Regions from separate parts of the Homo sapiens genome. Here region 2 is linked to region 1. The links come from fine-mapping of genetic effects on gene expression. Tissue or cell type: whole blood. Region 1 holds a variant in brackets; the other region holds the start of a gene. All regions are shown on one strand. Distances are between the middles of the regions.

Evidence for each region. PIP is the estimated chance that this variant, and not a neighbour inherited with it, causes the effect.
Region 2: it holds the start of TRIM17, and the variant in region 1 is fine-mapped to the expression of TRIM17 in whole blood (TOPMed, PIP above 0.99).

The regions. Positions count from the first base shown.
Region 1 is chr1:228,468,355-228,476,445 of GRCh38, reverse strand. No RefSeq gene overlaps it. Among named protein-coding and RNA genes, the nearest start is that of MIR4666A, 10 kb to the right of the region's middle. RefSeq lists enhancers at 1-435, 5,085-5,595. The variant T/C (reference allele first, on the strand shown) is at 3,429.
Region 2 is chr1:228,413,061-228,421,161 of GRCh38, reverse strand. TRIM17 (tripartite motif containing 17) reads left to right here and starts at 4,301. Exons shown (of 7, transcript NM_016102.4): 1 at 4,301-4,623; 2 at 6,049-6,518; 3 at 7,270-7,365. The coding sequence starts at 6,090. It overlaps LOC124904537 (a long non-coding RNA gene), which reads right to left. Exons shown (of 2, transcript XR_007066918.1): 2 at 7,905-8,101. RefSeq lists a silencer at 4,733-4,842.

The sequences.
Region 1 (8,091 bases):
CCTGTAATCCCAGCACTTTGGGAGGCCGAGGCAGGCAGATCACCTGAAGTCGGGAGTTTGAGACAAGCCTGACCAACATGGAGAAACCCCATCTCTACTAAAAATACAAAATTAGCCAGGTGTGGTGGCACACGCCTGTAATCCCAGCTACTCGGGAGGCTGAGGCAGGAGAACCTGGGAGGCAGAGGTTGCGGTGAGCCGAGATCGCGCCATTGCTCTCCAGCCTGGGCAACAAGAGCTAAACTCCGTCTAAAAAAAAAAAAAGAGAGAGAAAGAAAAAAAAGATGTGGGCTAACTGCACAGACCTAGAAAGTTGCGGGGCAGGAGCATCAAGGATCAGGACATTACTGGTGTGTTATCAGCATTGCCCTGCTTCTGATCAACAGGGTGGACAGCTTAGGAGCCAAGGGAAAACTTCCCCTTTATCTTCTGAAGTTTTGTTATAAAATCAGCTGACAGAAGGCAGATTGCTAGGAGGAAAGGCTTACACATCTATTAACATGCATGGGGAGAATCACAGGGTGGTTACCCCACCATGCAATGGGGTGCAGAGGCCTTTATTCTCCTCTTAGGGGAAAGGGAGATAAGGAAGTGTGCATTATTTTAGGGGGATAGTAAATATTTTTTAGGGAAATTCAACGGGCTTGAAGAACATACAATGGTCTGGGACAGTCTGTTGGTTTGTGACAAAGACAGCTTCTACCAGGGCCAATTTTATAGCTAAAAAATATATTTACAGCTAGAAAAAAAAGGTCTGTCCAGGCATGTTGACCGACTTCAGTCCTCATTCCTGTGATGAGAGTTCAGCCGTTTGAAACTCAGGGAAGGGATCGGAGGCCATTGTTTTCTGCTGCAGCAGGTCTGCACTTTAGGCAGATAGGGGAATTTCAGAGAACAGCTTCATCCAGTGCTTTGGGAGAGACAGAAGATTGGGAGACAGGAAGGAGGGGAAGGTCAGAGAGACCTGGAGGCTTCTTATTCAGTTCAGCATGTCAAAGCGCTGGGGTATCAGTTTCTGAGCCCCAAAAAGAGCAAACAGCATTCCTGGCAGGATAGAGGAATGCAAGTGTAGTAACCATGCCTTTGATTTTCTATATTTTCAGAGGCTTTGACATCCAGGGCCTCACTGGCCATGGAGGGACAGCTTCTCCCGGGGACAATTTTATAGCTAGAAAAAAAAATTTACAGCTAGAAAAAAAAATTACTGGGATTGTGCATTTCATATACAAACTCACCAACCCAGAGCCCACAGCCCCAACCACTCATCTATGGAGCTGTCACACTCCAGGCCACTATCGTTCTCTCTCTGTTATTTTGGTTGGCACTCCAAATTTTCTATGTGTAAATGGAAAAAGGGTGAGGGGGATCACAAAATGTTGAAATTGAGAGATGTCTTTGAATGGCACAGTCCAGCCCCTGTGTCTTATATAAAAGGAGACTAAAAGGAGTACATCAGGTTAATACCTACACATATTGCCAACCTGCCAAAACTGAAGACTCTTTTAAAAATTTCCCATTTGCATTTTTCTGCTGTCGGAATTGCATTGCATTGGAGGACACCCAGCTGGTGTCCACTGGGGAATCTATAGAATTGCTTTCTTGGTGTGTGGCCCAAAGCATCCCAAGGTTAGGTACCCAGAGCCTGCTGGGCTTATTCAAACCAGCCATTGTGAGCTAGCTTAGTCTGCCTTGCCTGCTCCTTCCAGTGAAAGCCACAGTAAAGGCTCCTGCCCACACTTTCCCCTCCCTCCATCTGCCTCTTAACTGACCCTGGCGCTATCCCTCGTGGCATCGAAGGCTTAGCAATAGCAAACCCCTCCTCTTGGGAACTGTGAGTAATAAACTATCTTTTCAATGGTGTTTGTCTCCTGATCTGTTGGCCTCACTGTACCTGAGTAATTTTTTTTTTAATTTTTTATTTTTATTTTTATTTTTTTTGAGATGGAGTCTAGCTCTCTCTCCCACTCTGGAGGGCAGTGGCACGATCTCAGCTCACTGCAAGCTCCTGGGCTCACACCATTCTCCTGCCTCAGCCTCCCGAGTAGTTGGGACTACAGGCGCCCACCACCATGCCCAGCTAATTTTTTGTATTTTTTAGCAGAGACGGGATTTCATCGTGTTAGCCAGGATGGTCTCGATCTCCTGACCTCGTGATCCACCCACCTCAGCCTCCCAAAGTGCTGGGATTACAGGTGTGAGCCACCGTGCCCGGCCTTTAATTCTATTTTTAAAAAGTGAGAGGAGGCCCAGAAGAAGAGATGGCAGGGAGTCCTGGCTGGGCTGCAGGATTAGGATTGTGGGTGGGGCATCCAGGGACCATGTACATAGTGAGGGCTTACACAATAGAGATGTGACCAGGTGCTGGAATTTCTCAGTGCCCCAATGCAGAAACATGAACTGGTTGGAGGGAGACCAAGTGCCAGGGAGGAAGTTCCTAGGCCAGATGGGGGACTCATCTAGAATGCCTGCCCGTGTGTGAGCAGCACCATGGTGCTGAGCTAGGGAGAGAAGTGTGGCCATTGACTAGAAATGGAGAAGAGTGAGATGACACCACCAGGGTTTCTATGTGGTGTGCGTCCCTTGGAGTGGAGAGCTGGGGTGAGAAGGTGAGTTCAGTTTTGTAGAAGATTCAGCTTGAGGCTGGAGCCTTTGAGGAGTGTTTTTAAATCTCACTGGGGGCCGGACACGGTGGCTCACACCTGTAATCCCAGGACTTTGGGAGGCCAAGGCAGGAGGATCACTTGAGGTCAGGAGTTCGAGACCAGCCCCCTGAGGATGTAGAGTAAGAAATGTTAGGTAGGTGTGTGGATATCAGAACCACATTTTGGGAAACCCTCTCCCCAAAAATTGTATAGCCCATAAGGAGGAATTTAGGGAAGTTGTTACTACAGGTGGGGACAGGGTGGTGTTAGAAGCTAGACAGGAAGAACAGGAGGGAAAAGCATTCAGAAAGCACTTGTGTAATTGGATGCACAGCTCTCCCTTGGACAAGGCAGCGTGGGTTAAGGGTGCTGACCCCTGTCCAGTTGAAAATCCAAGTATAACTTTTTTTTGAGTTGGGGTCTCACTCTGTCGCCCATACTGGAGTGTAATCACAGCTCACTGCAGCCTCGAACTCCTGAGCCCAAGCAGTCTTCCCACATCAGTCTCTCAAATAGCTGGAACCACAGGCCTGAGCCACCATGGCCAGGTAAATTTTGTATTTTTTATTTTTTTGTGCAGATGTGATCTTGCTATGTTGCCCAGGCTGGTCTCAAACTCCTGGCCTCAAGCAATCCTCCCACTTTGGCCTCCCAAAATGTTGGGATTACAGGCGTGAGCCATGGTGCCTGGCCTTCACATATAATTTGACTCCCCCAAAACTTAACTACTAATAGGCTACTGTTGGAAGCCTTACCAATAACATAAGCAGTCGATTGAGGCAAATT[T/C]TGAATGTTCTATATATTACATACTGTGTCCTTACAATACGGTAAGCTAGAGGAAAGAAAATGTTATTAAGAAAGTCCTAAGAAAGAGAACATGTAGTTACTATTCATGAAAAGGAAGTGAATCATCATAAAGGTCATCCTCGTGGTCTTCACACTGAGAGGCTGCAGAGGAGGAGGAAGGAGAGGAGGGCTTCATCTCGCTGTCTCAGGGATAGGGGTAGCAAAGGCTGGAGAAAAGCGGTGTATCGGTAACCCTCAAAGGTCAAACTCTGGTTGCTCAAGGGTCAGCTGTACAGTTGAGAACCCATGCAGGTGTAGGCACAGGGTAGATAAACGGTTAAAATAGCAAACCAAACAGGCCACAGCCCTCCTGCTAGAGAAAGTATAGGAGTTTCTTACTTTTCTGGAAGGAAGAATTTTTTGATTACGTGTTAGAATTTATTTGATGGTCCAGCACATTAATGACATCATGTAGGGGGAAAATACCCTCCACCCCATCAATTCTTAGTTGAAACTGACCCCTGTTATAAAAGACACATTAGCAAGAGGCACAAATAGCAGCTTACTAGCAGCTACCTTTCCTAGATACATGCGTGGCCCCCAGAGAATGGGTAGTCCTCAAAGAGGTGGCTTTGAATTCCCGCTTTTATGGTATCTTCAACAAAGAACAGTAAATCTGCAGAGAAGTGACAAGATAAGAGAGATGAACTTTGAGTCTCTAGGAACAGCAACTTGGAGAAAGGCACATAAAGGACACATGAAGTCTAGTTAGTAGCCCTTGCTAATGCAGATCCCCTGGTAGCATCTCCAGTCAATAAAGGTGCAAAGTTGTCTTCAGTGCTAACCTCCCTTCTCCCTGGTGAAGTGGGGTGGGGGCTGGATGCCTTCTGTAAATCCATGTCCTGCTTTTAGCCACCCAGAGGGAGGGCAGTGAGCTCTCCTGTATACTTTCTTCTCCATTGCCCTGAGCCCAACAATCCCTCATCTTGCAGGAGGCATATTCTGCTCTTCCACTGGAACAAAATGCCCCCTAGGGGTGACTTAAGAAGACAGCAGGGTGCAGAATCTGAGGCTACAAAACAAGACTAGAAGACTTGGCTGGGGAGTCCAGTCTAGACTCAGGTTAGCTTTTTTTTTTTTTTTTGGAGGCAGTATCTTGCTTTGTCACCTACGCTGGACTGCAATGGCACGATCACAGCTCACTGCAGCCCCCTACTCCCAAGCTCAAGCGATGGCCCCGCCTCATCCTCCCAAGTAGCTGGGGGACGATAGGCGCAGGCCACCACGCCCGTTAACTTTTTAAATTTTTTTGTAGAGACGAGGTCTCGCTATGTCGTGTCACCCAAGCTGGTTTTGAACTCCTGGCCCCAAGTGATCCTCCAGCCTCCTTTGGAGGACACAGATGGACAGGGACCCGGTGGCCAGCCCATTTTCCCATCCCGGCCTGGGAAAGAAGCGTCAAATGCACTCGGGAAAATAACCCACTTCACCTAGTTAATGTCTTGGGCGGTTCTGGGAAAAGCGTTTCTGCGCAGTCCAGAGACCTGGACCTTCATCTCCAGCCTGCGCCCCACGGAGGCGGCACCGGAGCCGGCTTCCTTAGGTGTGTTGGTGACGTGCTGGGCGGGTCTGGCGGACCAGCCTCGCACCTCCTCGGGCGCAACGCGAGTGGGTTCCGTCTTGGGTTCCTGCGCGAAGGGGCAGCCCAGGCTCAGGGCATGCGGCGCCAGGGTGCTCTGCTTCACGAATGCCGGGGTACCGCAGTGCTGGGGTGCCGGACGCAAGGGTGTCAGATGGGGTGCTGCTGGGATTATAAGGGTCACCAGTTGCAGGGATGCTGGGGGTGCTGGGGTTACAGGGGTGTGGGGGCAGAGGATATGAATGCAGGGGTGCAGTGGTACCCGAGTGCAGAAGTGCAGGGGTGCCGGGAGCAGAGTTGTCAAATGGTGTGGTGCTGAGTTCACAGGGGTGCCAGGGATAGAGGGAAGCCCCGGCACCAGAGTGCAGGAGTGTTGGGATGCTGGGGCTGCAGGGGTGCCGGGGAAGATGGGTACGCAGTGCAGGGGTGCCGCGGTGCTGTGACGCCCCAATACTGAGGGGTGCAGTATCCAGTTGGTTCTAAATTCATTCTCACCCGCCTCACACCACAAACCAATTGGCTGATGCGCCTTCTCGAGCTTTCCAAAGCCACCCTTCATTCCGCTGCCTCTCTGCGACCCTCGGTTTTATTTCTGAGTTTGGAATTTGTTGTATTTCATGCACGTTTGCGCCTTAATGTTTTCTCCCCAATCTTTGCATGTCACCAAGATTTCTCGACCCCCGTGTGGCACAGGGATGAGGCTGCTTCGGGGTTTACAGGGTGGAGGAGGCCGGCTTGCGTGTTCCTCAGGGTAAATCGGGGATCAGTCCAGCTCCCCTCCCCACCCATCCCCCGGAGCCCCTCCCCCAACTCCTGCTCCCCTCCCCGCCACCCTCCCCCACCCCCCTTCCTCCCCGCATACTTCTTGTCTCCCATCTGAGAGCCCCTCCCCTCCCAACCCGCCCCACCCCGGTATCCCCCACTTGCCCACCTCCTCCTGCACTCCCCCTGCACCCCTCCTAGCCCACCGTAGGGCACCCCTCCCCGCACACTCCCCGGCTCTCCCTTCCCTGGTGGAAACCACCTCTCCTGGTTAAATAATAAATATTTATTATTTATTATTTATTACATAAAATTCCCTTATGTCTTGTGATAGGTACGTTGCCGGTTTCCATATCTTCTCCAAATGCTGCTTGAAGCCACCAGCTTCGCAGTCAGCAGCCCGTAAGATATTTAATTGCAGTACGTAAGAAGAGAAATCTGTGGTATAATATTAGCTTGGGGAAGGGAGATCACTGGCCTTGAAGAGCTTTTCGCCAAAAGCTACTGTAGGGCAGGAGCTGCTTCGCTGGGTGGACAGGGCCACCAAAGGCCGCCGTTCAGGTTACCCCAAACCTGCTGCTCAGGGAGCACGCCTCGGGTTCCCAGGCTGGTGCCCTCGCCCGGGCCTGCCTCTGTTTCACTGATTGGCTTTCATGCTCCTGCTTTGCTTCTGCATCCACACCACCTGTCGCTGGCATTTGCAGCTCTTTTCTAAGTGCTGAAATGCAATGGAAATGAGCACAAAAGCTGCTCCTGCGGACGTGGGCGCTGGGAATCAGCCGGTGTGCCTCCTCGACTTGGTCAGAGGGCCTGCCCTCTTGGGCATCAGGTCCCCGGGGGCACCGGCCTTTGTCCCCCGTGCTCCGAGCGCTGGGCTGGGGAGCTCCCAGGTGCTGGCCCGGCGCAACCCGGTGCCTTTAAGCAGGGTGGGGGCGCGCCGGGAGGAGGTTGCTCTCAGGCGCCCCAGGAGTCGCCCCTGATGGAAACGCGCCTTGGCTGTGGCAGGAGGGCCTTTGTCCATAGGATGTCAACTGGAAGCCCTGAGAAGCGCAAGGCTGCCCAAACCCTTTTTTCCTTCTTTGCAATCCTGCAAGCATTACGGGAGGCCCCAATGTTCCCTGCAGAACTCCATAGCACACCCTGTCATTTCAGCCACTCCCAGTTCCTCCGCTTTAAATCGTACAAGGTTCCCTCTAGTCCTTGAGAAGCCTGGAAGCCTGTCCTCTCTGTATCTGTAGGGTGCTGTCCCTCACACAGATCCCACTCTACCGGTGGGGTCTGGATGGAGCATGTGCATTTGCCATTGCAACGTGCAATTTTATTAAATGCTTAAAAAAATAGAGACAGGGGTCTCGCTATGTTTGCTAGGCTGGTCTTAAACTCCTGGACTCAAGGGATCCTCCTGCTTGGGTCTCTCAAAGTGCTAGGATTACAGGCCTGAGCCACCGTGCTGCACCTGTATTAAATGCTTGTTTGTAAGACTTAAAGGGACCTGGCTTCTTGGCTGGTGGGGAAAGCGCTCACTGCAGGAAGCCCTCATCCTAGTAGAGAAGCATACATCATCTAGAGCTGCACAAAAATCTAAGGTGTAAAGATGGACTGATTTCATGCATTCAGTTATTCATTCAACACATTTGTGGACTGGCTTCCAGCCCAAGTACTGTACTCTAGAACGATTAAAGAAGTGCGGGGGGCAGGGGGGAGGTGTTTATTATTTTTCTTAATCATCTAAACCTGGTCACTAAGCTAGAGGCCACTGTTTCTTTTTCTTTTTTCTTTCTCTTTCCCTGTCCTTCCCTCCCTCCGTCTCCCCAACTGTCCCTCTTCTTTCTTTACTTCCTTCTTTCTTTCTTTTCCTTCCTTCCCTCTCTTCTTTTTTCCTTCTTTTCTTCACATGAGGAAAGCTTCAAGTTTACTCCATAGTGTCCGTCTGCCAATACATCATGTTGGTCTTGATCCGAGACACTGTCTCAATTGGCTCAGGCTGTTCTAACAAAATGCTACAGAAGGGGAGACTTAAACAACAGAAATTTATCAAAGTCTTTGGGGGAAAAGAGACCTGTGTGGGAAACATAGAAAAACCCTGTCTCTACAAAAAAAAAAAAAATTAGCCAGGCATGGTGGCACGTACCTATAGTCCCAGCTACTTGGGAGGCTGAGATAGGAGGATTGCTTGAACCCAGGAGTTTGAGGCTGCAGTGAGCTATGAATCACACCACTGCACTCTGGCCTGGGCAACAGAGCAAGACCCTGTCTCAAAAA
Region 2 (8,101 bases), 55 kb after region 1:
CAGCTCCCAACAAGATAGCAGAATAGACCTCCCCAAAATATGCAGATTTGATATAAGAATTATTTTGAGCTGAAGGCACTTGAAGAACAGCAGGTGTAAGAAGGGCCCTCTGACCCCTTTTCCTGAAAGCAGGTGATGAACCCTCCATGGGAAAGGTGCTTGCCTCTACCAGCAGGGAGAAACAGCATGACTAGGCATGGGGACTGAAGTGCAGCAAAATGTATACAAACAGGCTTTGTTAAAGTAGCTCTTATCGCCAGGTAGAGTGGCTCATGCCTGTAATCCCAGCACTTTGGGAGGCCAAGGCAGGCAGATCACCTGAGGTCAGGAGTTCCAGACCAGCCTGGCCAACGTGAAACCCCGTATCTACTAAAAAAACAAAACAAACAAAAAAAATCAGCCAGGTGTGGTGGCGCGCACCTGTAGTCCCAGCTACTTGGGAGGCTGAGGCAGAAGAATTGCTTGAACCCAGGAGGTGGAGGTTGCAATGAGCCACGATCACATCACTGCACTCCAGGCTGGGTGACAGAGTGAGACTCTGTCTCCAACAAACAAACAAACAAACAAAAATAGCTCTTACCTTCCCCAGCCTCCCTAGGTATTCCAGTTGCTTTCTCACAATTACTACCCTTTGTTCCATCCAGTGGATAAGCACTTAGGCCTAACTACTCTTGAGGTCTTCATTTTGCTGTGAAGGCTCCCATGTACATGTACAAATGAAATGTGTATGCTTTCTCCCATTAATCTGTCTTCTTTCGTTTTAGTCTATGCAGGCTGCTATAACAAAATGCTATGGCTTGGTGGTTTATAAGCGACAGGAATTTATTGTTCACAGATCTGGTGGCTGGCAAGTCCAAGGTCACGGTGCCAACAGATTGAGCTTCTGGTGAGATTCTGCTTTCTGGTTCACAGACAGGGCCTTCTCACTGCGTCCTCATGTGGTGCAAGGGGTAAGGTGAAAATAAATCTCTGGAAAGGCACCAATCCTATTCATGAAGGCTCCACCCTTATGGCATAATTACTTTCCAAAGAACTCCATCTCCTAACACCATCACCTTGGAGGTGAGGATTTCAAAATGTGAATTTTGGAGACAGACATTCAGTTCATAACAATCCGGATTTGTTTTTCTGTGGCTCAGTGGACTCTCCTGTTGAGCAGTCTGAATTGAAGACATAAAGAGGCCATGGCTCTCTTACCCTATTTTCAGGAGCCCCTCTTCTTTTCCATTTAATTCAGCCTATTTTAAATTGCATGAGCACTTAAATTTTGCTCTCGAATCTTTTCTACAATGTTAATAACTTAGTGGGGGCTGCATTCAGTAAGGGCAAAGGATATTTACCTTGTAGCAGTGTAAGTAAGACTTGTGTTTCAAGACTGACATTGCTGATCCTTTGCTTAAATAATTTGAAAAAAAAAACCACAATCCACAGCAGTGGTATTTAATTTAAGAATTAAATTATTAAAGTAGAATTCAATTTAAGAATTCCAAAAGGATATATAGTGAAAATTGAGCCTCCCTCAATTAGGGGGTTCCTCAGCCCTTAATTTCCCTCATCAGATGGAGTTTCTTGTTTATTTCTTGTATATTTTCCAAGAGATACATATACAGTAATTATGTTTACCTAAATAGTGGCAGACTACATATACTGTACATCCTGCCTTTTATTAAACCTAACAATTTATCAGGACACATAACTGCTATCTGATTTTTTCTTAATGACTTGAGGATATGAAGGTTATTCCAATTGTTTTATCATGATGATAGATTTCTCAGCTCAATAACCAGGTGAGCCTAAAAAGCATTAATAATGAGCATCCTGGGCTGATGCCACATTTTAACAAGTATTTGTTGAATTCCCCACATCATGCTAGTATGGGAGGAGACTGTGAATTAAATTGACCAAAGACAGACGAACAGGAGAAAGGCATCCATGTTGTATTGATCTTAATATTTTTATATGCATGGGGTGTACAGGAAAGAAGTGAAAACCCAAAGAAGTTGTTAGGCTCAGCTGCTTGTAAACCATTTGTAACAAAGGGTGATAACGTGTCAGCAGGTGACTAGGACATGTGTGGTGCTATGCAAGATATAGATATATTCCATTTCCCCTCTAATTCTGTGATTCTGTTTTCCCAATTGAAGGAAACCTGCAGCTCACAATCCCCTCACTGATGCAAATGACAGGCAGAGGATTGGGTCTGCCCAATCCCCAATTTATTGGGGAAAATAAATCTTGGGCCCCAAAATCACTAGCTAAAAGGAAAAGTCAAGCTGGGAACTGCTTAGAGCAAACCTGCGTCCCATTCTATTCAAAGTCATATCTCTGCTCACTGAGATAAATGTATATCTGATTGCCTCTTTTGGAAAGGCTAATCAGAAACTCAAAAGAATGCAAACATTTGTCTCTTATCTACCTATGACCTGGAAGCCCCCTCCCCACTTCCAGTTGTCCCGCCTTTCTGGATGGAACCAATGTTCATCTTACATATATTGATCGATGTCTCATGTCTCCCTAAAATGTATAAAACCAAGCTGTGCTCGGACCACCTTGGGCACATGGCTGTGTCATGGGCGTGTGTCCTTAACTTTGGCAAAATAAACTTCCTAATTGACTTAAACTAGCCTCAGATATTCTGGGTTCACAAGGGTAATTCACTTAATCGGCCAGTGTGCGCAGCCAGCCCGCACCTGACAGCACACAGACCCCTTTGTGTGTGCGAGTGATGAGAGACCACAGAAGAAACACTCTACCGAGTGAGCCCAGGGAAAGCCAGCCATCTATGCCTGTGGCCAGCTGTCTACACCCGCACACCCAGGAGATTGCAGAATGGTGCCTCTTAGCCTTCAAGGCCCTGTTTTCCTGCCTGTCTGCACCCCCTGTGTGGGCCAAGCCTTAGTTTCTTCATCTGTCCTCTCTCTCCAATCCCAGGACTCTGACTCAGGGCACGCAGGCCTCTGGCTCCTGTTCCTGAAAGCAGGAGATGAACCCTCCATGTGAAAGGTGCATCCCTCTACTGGAGGATGAAGCGTGATGACTAGGCGTGGGGACTCAAGGCCAGGAGAAATGGCCACCAGTCAGGACCTGGGCAGGGCTGGGGGCGGCATTTTGGCTGAAACCGTAAGAGACTTTTAAACCAGAGCAACTCCATCTTGTATAGAGGCTGGGTAAAATAATTCTGAGACCTGCTGGGCTGCATTCCCCAGAGGTTAGACATTCCAAGTCACAGGATGGGATAGGAGGTTGGCACAAGATACACGTCATAAAGACCTTGCTGATGAAACAGTATGTGGTGAAGAGGCCAGCAAAATCCCACCAAAACCTAGATGGCGACCAGAATAACCTCTGGTTATCATGACTGCTCATTATATGCTAATTTTAATACGTTAGCATGCTATGAGATACCCTCACCAGTGCCACAACAGTTTACAGATGCCAAGACAAGGTCACAGTTACCCTATATGGTCTAAGAAGGGGAGGAGCCCTCAGTTTCTGGAATTGCCCTTCCTTTTCTGGGAAACTCATGAATACCCCACCCCTTATTTAGCATATAATCAGTAAATAGCCATAAAAATGGGCAACCTGTAGCCCTGGGGGCTGGTCTGCCCATGGAGTAGCCACTCTTTATTCCTTTACTTTCTTAATAAACTTGCTTTCACTTTACTCTATGGATTTGCCCCGAATTCTTTCTTGCCCAAGATCCAAAACCCTCTCTTGGGGTCTGGATCAGGACCTGTTTCTGGTAACAAAACCACCTGGGGTGTCGGCAAGACCCACCCCGTCCCGCCTGGTTCTAGGGGACCTGACCTGCCAGGTGGTCCCTCCAAACTGGTCCGCCCACAGGATTGGGACGCCCCTCCCTGTACCCTCAGCCTGATGCTGACTGCCAACCATGTGGGCAGACCTGGCGGCTGACTGGCTGCTCCTGGGGACCCCCTTCATAGCTTCTCAACAGGCACTCGCTCCTGCTGCCTCGCCCCCACCCCAGCCCACACAAACTCCTCTCCATCCCCTACCCCGACCAACTTAGCCCCTCACCTAACCCTCCAGCCTGGGGCTCGCGTGCCCTCCCGCAGCCCCAACCCCAGGTTGAGAAGCCTCTTCCAATCCCACTCCCCCCACCCTGACGCTCGCCTGCCCGCCCCTAGCCCCACCAGCTGTCCCCATTCCACTCCCCACCCCCAAGTAACCCCCCAACTCCCCACCCTCCACACTCCCTTAACCTCCCCTAAAAGTCCCACCCCAGGCCAACAAGACTCCTCCCTTCGCTGGGCTGTGGACCACATCCTCCCCACCGCCCAGTCAGCACCCGCTGCGCCTGTCCCCGGCTCGTCCAGAGCCTTCCACCCCCTGCCGCCTTCCTTCCCCAAGCCACCCCCAACCTCTCCTAAGAGGCGCCGCCCCAGTCCCGGCCGCCGAACACTCCCTCGCCCAGCATTCCCCTCCCCCGCCGCCCCCCAGCCCCCGCTGACGCCACAAAGTCCCTAGGCCTCCCGACCCCAGGTCCCCACGCCCCGGGCCGGGCCGCAGCCTCCTGGGCTTCGTGGGGGCAGACCCAGCCTTTCCCGGCAGCGAGCGCTCGGCCAGGTGCACTAGGCGCTGTGCGGGCCCCCCTTCCCCGCGGTGAGTAGCCCCCACCCCGCCGCCTAGGCTACCCTCCTGTGGCGCCTGGGCCACGACCTAAGCCTAACCCGGTCCTCCTCGCCCTCCAACGCCCGGCCTTCCCGCCTCCGCCGGCCGCCGCGTCCCTGGAGGGGCTAGCGCGCTTCAACAAGGTAACTCTACCGGGACCCTAGCGGACCAGAGCGGGAAGGACAGCCATCCCGGCAGCCAGAGCCAGAGCCCCAGGCCCGCTGCCGCTGTCCCTGCCCGGCTTCGGTCAGGGTGGGCTGGGTGCCTCCGTTAGGGCTCTTGGGGGGAGTCGGAGGGCTGGCGCCGGGTGGTTGGCGTGCAGAAAGCTCCGAGAAACTGGACGTGGGACAGAGCCGGGGAAGTCTGAGACCCCTAGACGCCCTCGCTTTAGGGGATGGCAGAACGGAAGGGGAGAATCGTGCTTGCAGTGTAGACGCGATTTTCAACTCCTTCTGCAACTCGGTCCCCATAGCAACCCCGTGGCGTAGGCGAAAGTCTGTAGATCTCCACTGCGTGGGGTCGCGAGTGTTGAGATTGCAGGGGGCATCTATGTGCATGCTTGTGTGCCTGTGCGTGTGTGCGCGCGTGTACCTGTGTGTACATGCATGTATGTTTACCGATATGTGCATCTGTGCCTGTGTGTGCTGTGTTTGTGGATCAGTGTTTCTGTGCGTACATGTTTGTATTTGTGTGGTGTGTATGCGTGGGTATGCGTGTGTGCACATGCACGTTTGTATACATACATGGGTATGTGTATGGGTGTTCGTCTGTGCGTACATGCACACGCGTGTTTTTTCTGAACCCCACCTCACTACCGAATGGAAGAGAGCTTTTTTCCTCTGATAGCCCATCCCTTCTTCCTTTGGTGTACGGGGTTTTGTTAAAGAAAAAATTCTGACATTTGAAAGGCTCTTTAGTCAGGCTACTTGCAATGGGAGAGTTGCGCCAGCAAAGACAGCTGGGGATGTATGGGGGAGTTGGAGTGGGGATCTGGGTGGGGTCAGTGGATGGAAAGTGATTAAGGGAAGGCTCCAAGGGTAGGGGCTTCTCCCTAAGCTGACCTAGCAGGCTTCTCCAGAAAGGCAGGTTGAAGGCCTAGCCGGCAACGGTCTGTCGGGGAGGAGGAGCTGATGAGATGTGGAGCTGGGGGTAGCCAGCAGCAGGCGGAAGTGGACGGGTAGGGTCCAGGCCCAGTGGAGAGGAGAGGCGGAGGGGCCTGCAGAGCATTGGTCAGGGAGGGTCTGTGTAGTTTCTGGGGAGGCATCTGTGTCTGTTGTTGACAAGGCTAAAAATGATGACTCTGGACTCTCTAACTGGACTGCAGTCCTAGCCCTCCTCTGTAAAGGGAGGCTGTACAGGACGGTTGCACACTGCCGGCGCCCAGATCATCGGGCTGCTCCCTCCAACTCTCTCCAGAGTCCCTCAAGCGGGAACCTGCCTCGTGTCTCCCAGGAGCCATGGAGGCTGTGGAACTCGCCAGAAAACTGCAGGAGGAAGCTACGTGCTCCATCTGTCTGGATTACTTCACAGACCCTGTGATGACCACCTGTGGCCACAACTTCTGCCGAGCCTGCATCCAGCTGAGCTGGGAAAAGGCGAGGGGCAAGAAGGGGAGGCGGAAGCGGAAGGGCTCCTTCCCCTGCCCCGAGTGCAGAGAGATGTCCCCGCAGAGGAACCTGCTGCCCAACCGGCTGCTGACCAAGGTGGCCGAGATGGCGCAGCAGCATCCTGGTCTGCAGAAGCAAGACCTGTGCCAGGAGCACCACGAGCCCCTCAAGCTTTTCTGCCAGAAGGACCAGAGCCCCATCTGTGTGGTGTGCAGGGAGTCCCGGGAGCACCGGCTGCACAGGGTGCTGCCCGCCGAGGAGGCAGTGCAGGGGTACAAGGTAGGCCACATCGGGGCCCAGGTCAAGGGGCCGGGGAGGAGGCATCCAGGGGGACAAGGTGACCCAGATCATGGGGGAGGGAGGAGGTGTCCAGGGACAAAGTGGCCCGAGTCAGGGGCTGGGGAGGAGGCATCCAGGGGACAAGGTGGCCTGTGGCTGGGTAGGGGTGTCCCTGGGGACAATGTGGGCCTACACTGTATGATGCAGGCATTGCAAAATCTTACCTCTCCTCTCAGAGTATTTTGGGTGGCTCTGAGAACCAAACTGATTTGAGACAGATAAGCAGAAGCAAAGCACTGAAATTCATTCCCTGTAAGCTTTCCATGACCCAGGAGTCGCTCCCAAGGAGCCAGAGGCCCATGGAAGCATGTTAGAGCCAAACATGTACCTGAGGAGGATGAGGGTTAGTTTAGCAGGGTCCCTTTGCACAGATTTCTCTGGTTTCGGCTTTCCCGCCCTTGGTAAGAACATGGCTTTCCTCCTGGCCTAGGGCAGTCCTCTCTGGCATGGTGGCTGTGCCTTCTGCTCTTAGGAAGGCCGAGGGTCACAGCAATTCTTACACCTGCCCTTTTTTAAGTGCCTTCAGCTCAAAATAATCCAAGGTGGCACATTCTGGGTGACGTATTTTGATCCCCTGCCCCTCCTGAGGAGGGTCTCTGGGGTGGGTGCAGTTTCAGCGAGCACAACTGGACTCTAGGCAGGAGGTAGGGGGATCGCTGATCCCAAATCCTGCGGTTTGTGTGTCCCACAGTTGAAGCTGGAGGAGGACATGGAGTACCTTCGGGAGCAGATCACCAGGACAGGGAATCTGCAGGCCAGGGAGGAGCAGAGCTTAGCCGAGTGGCAGGTGGGTGCCCAGGGCTGTCCAGTCCCTTTCCTGCTGCTGCTCCATCTTCCTGCATTTCCACGTCTGTGTCTGCCCGTGGGGATATGCTGCCGCAGTGGCAGGAAAAGAAGAAAGTTGCCTCTACCCTTCTAGGTTCTGTGGCTGGCCTCAGAATGAAACTGACTTAAGACAGATGAACAGCAGAGAAAAAGATAAAAAGGCAATTTTAAATTACAGATGCACACATAGGGTGGAGAGAAGGGGCCTCAAAAATCAGACTCAAAGAGGCAGCCAGAGGGTAGGGGCTCAGTACCACAAAGGAGGCAGCCAGAGGGCGGGGGCTCAGTACCACAAAGGAGGCAGCCAGAAGGTGGGGGCTCAATACCACAAAGGAGGCAGCCAGAGGGCAGGGGCGTAGGTCAGCACCACAAAGGAATAGGGCTTGGGGGCCTCTGGGCTGGGGAGGCAGGTGATGTTGGTTAAGTATTTAAACAAGTGTCTCAGGTGAAGAGTTGTTTTTGGAACTCTCTTTCTGGTATAGATGCCTTGACCACTGGAAATTCCTTCATGAAAGGGCACTTTTTAATTTTTTTTTTTTTTTTTTTTGAGATGGAGTTTCACTCTTGTTGCCCAGGCTGGAATCCAATGGTGCGGTGTCAGTTCACTGCAACCTCTGCCTCCCGGGTTCAAGCAATTCTTCTGCCTCAGCCTCCCAAGCAGCTGGGACTATAGGTGCCCACCACCATGCCCGACTAAC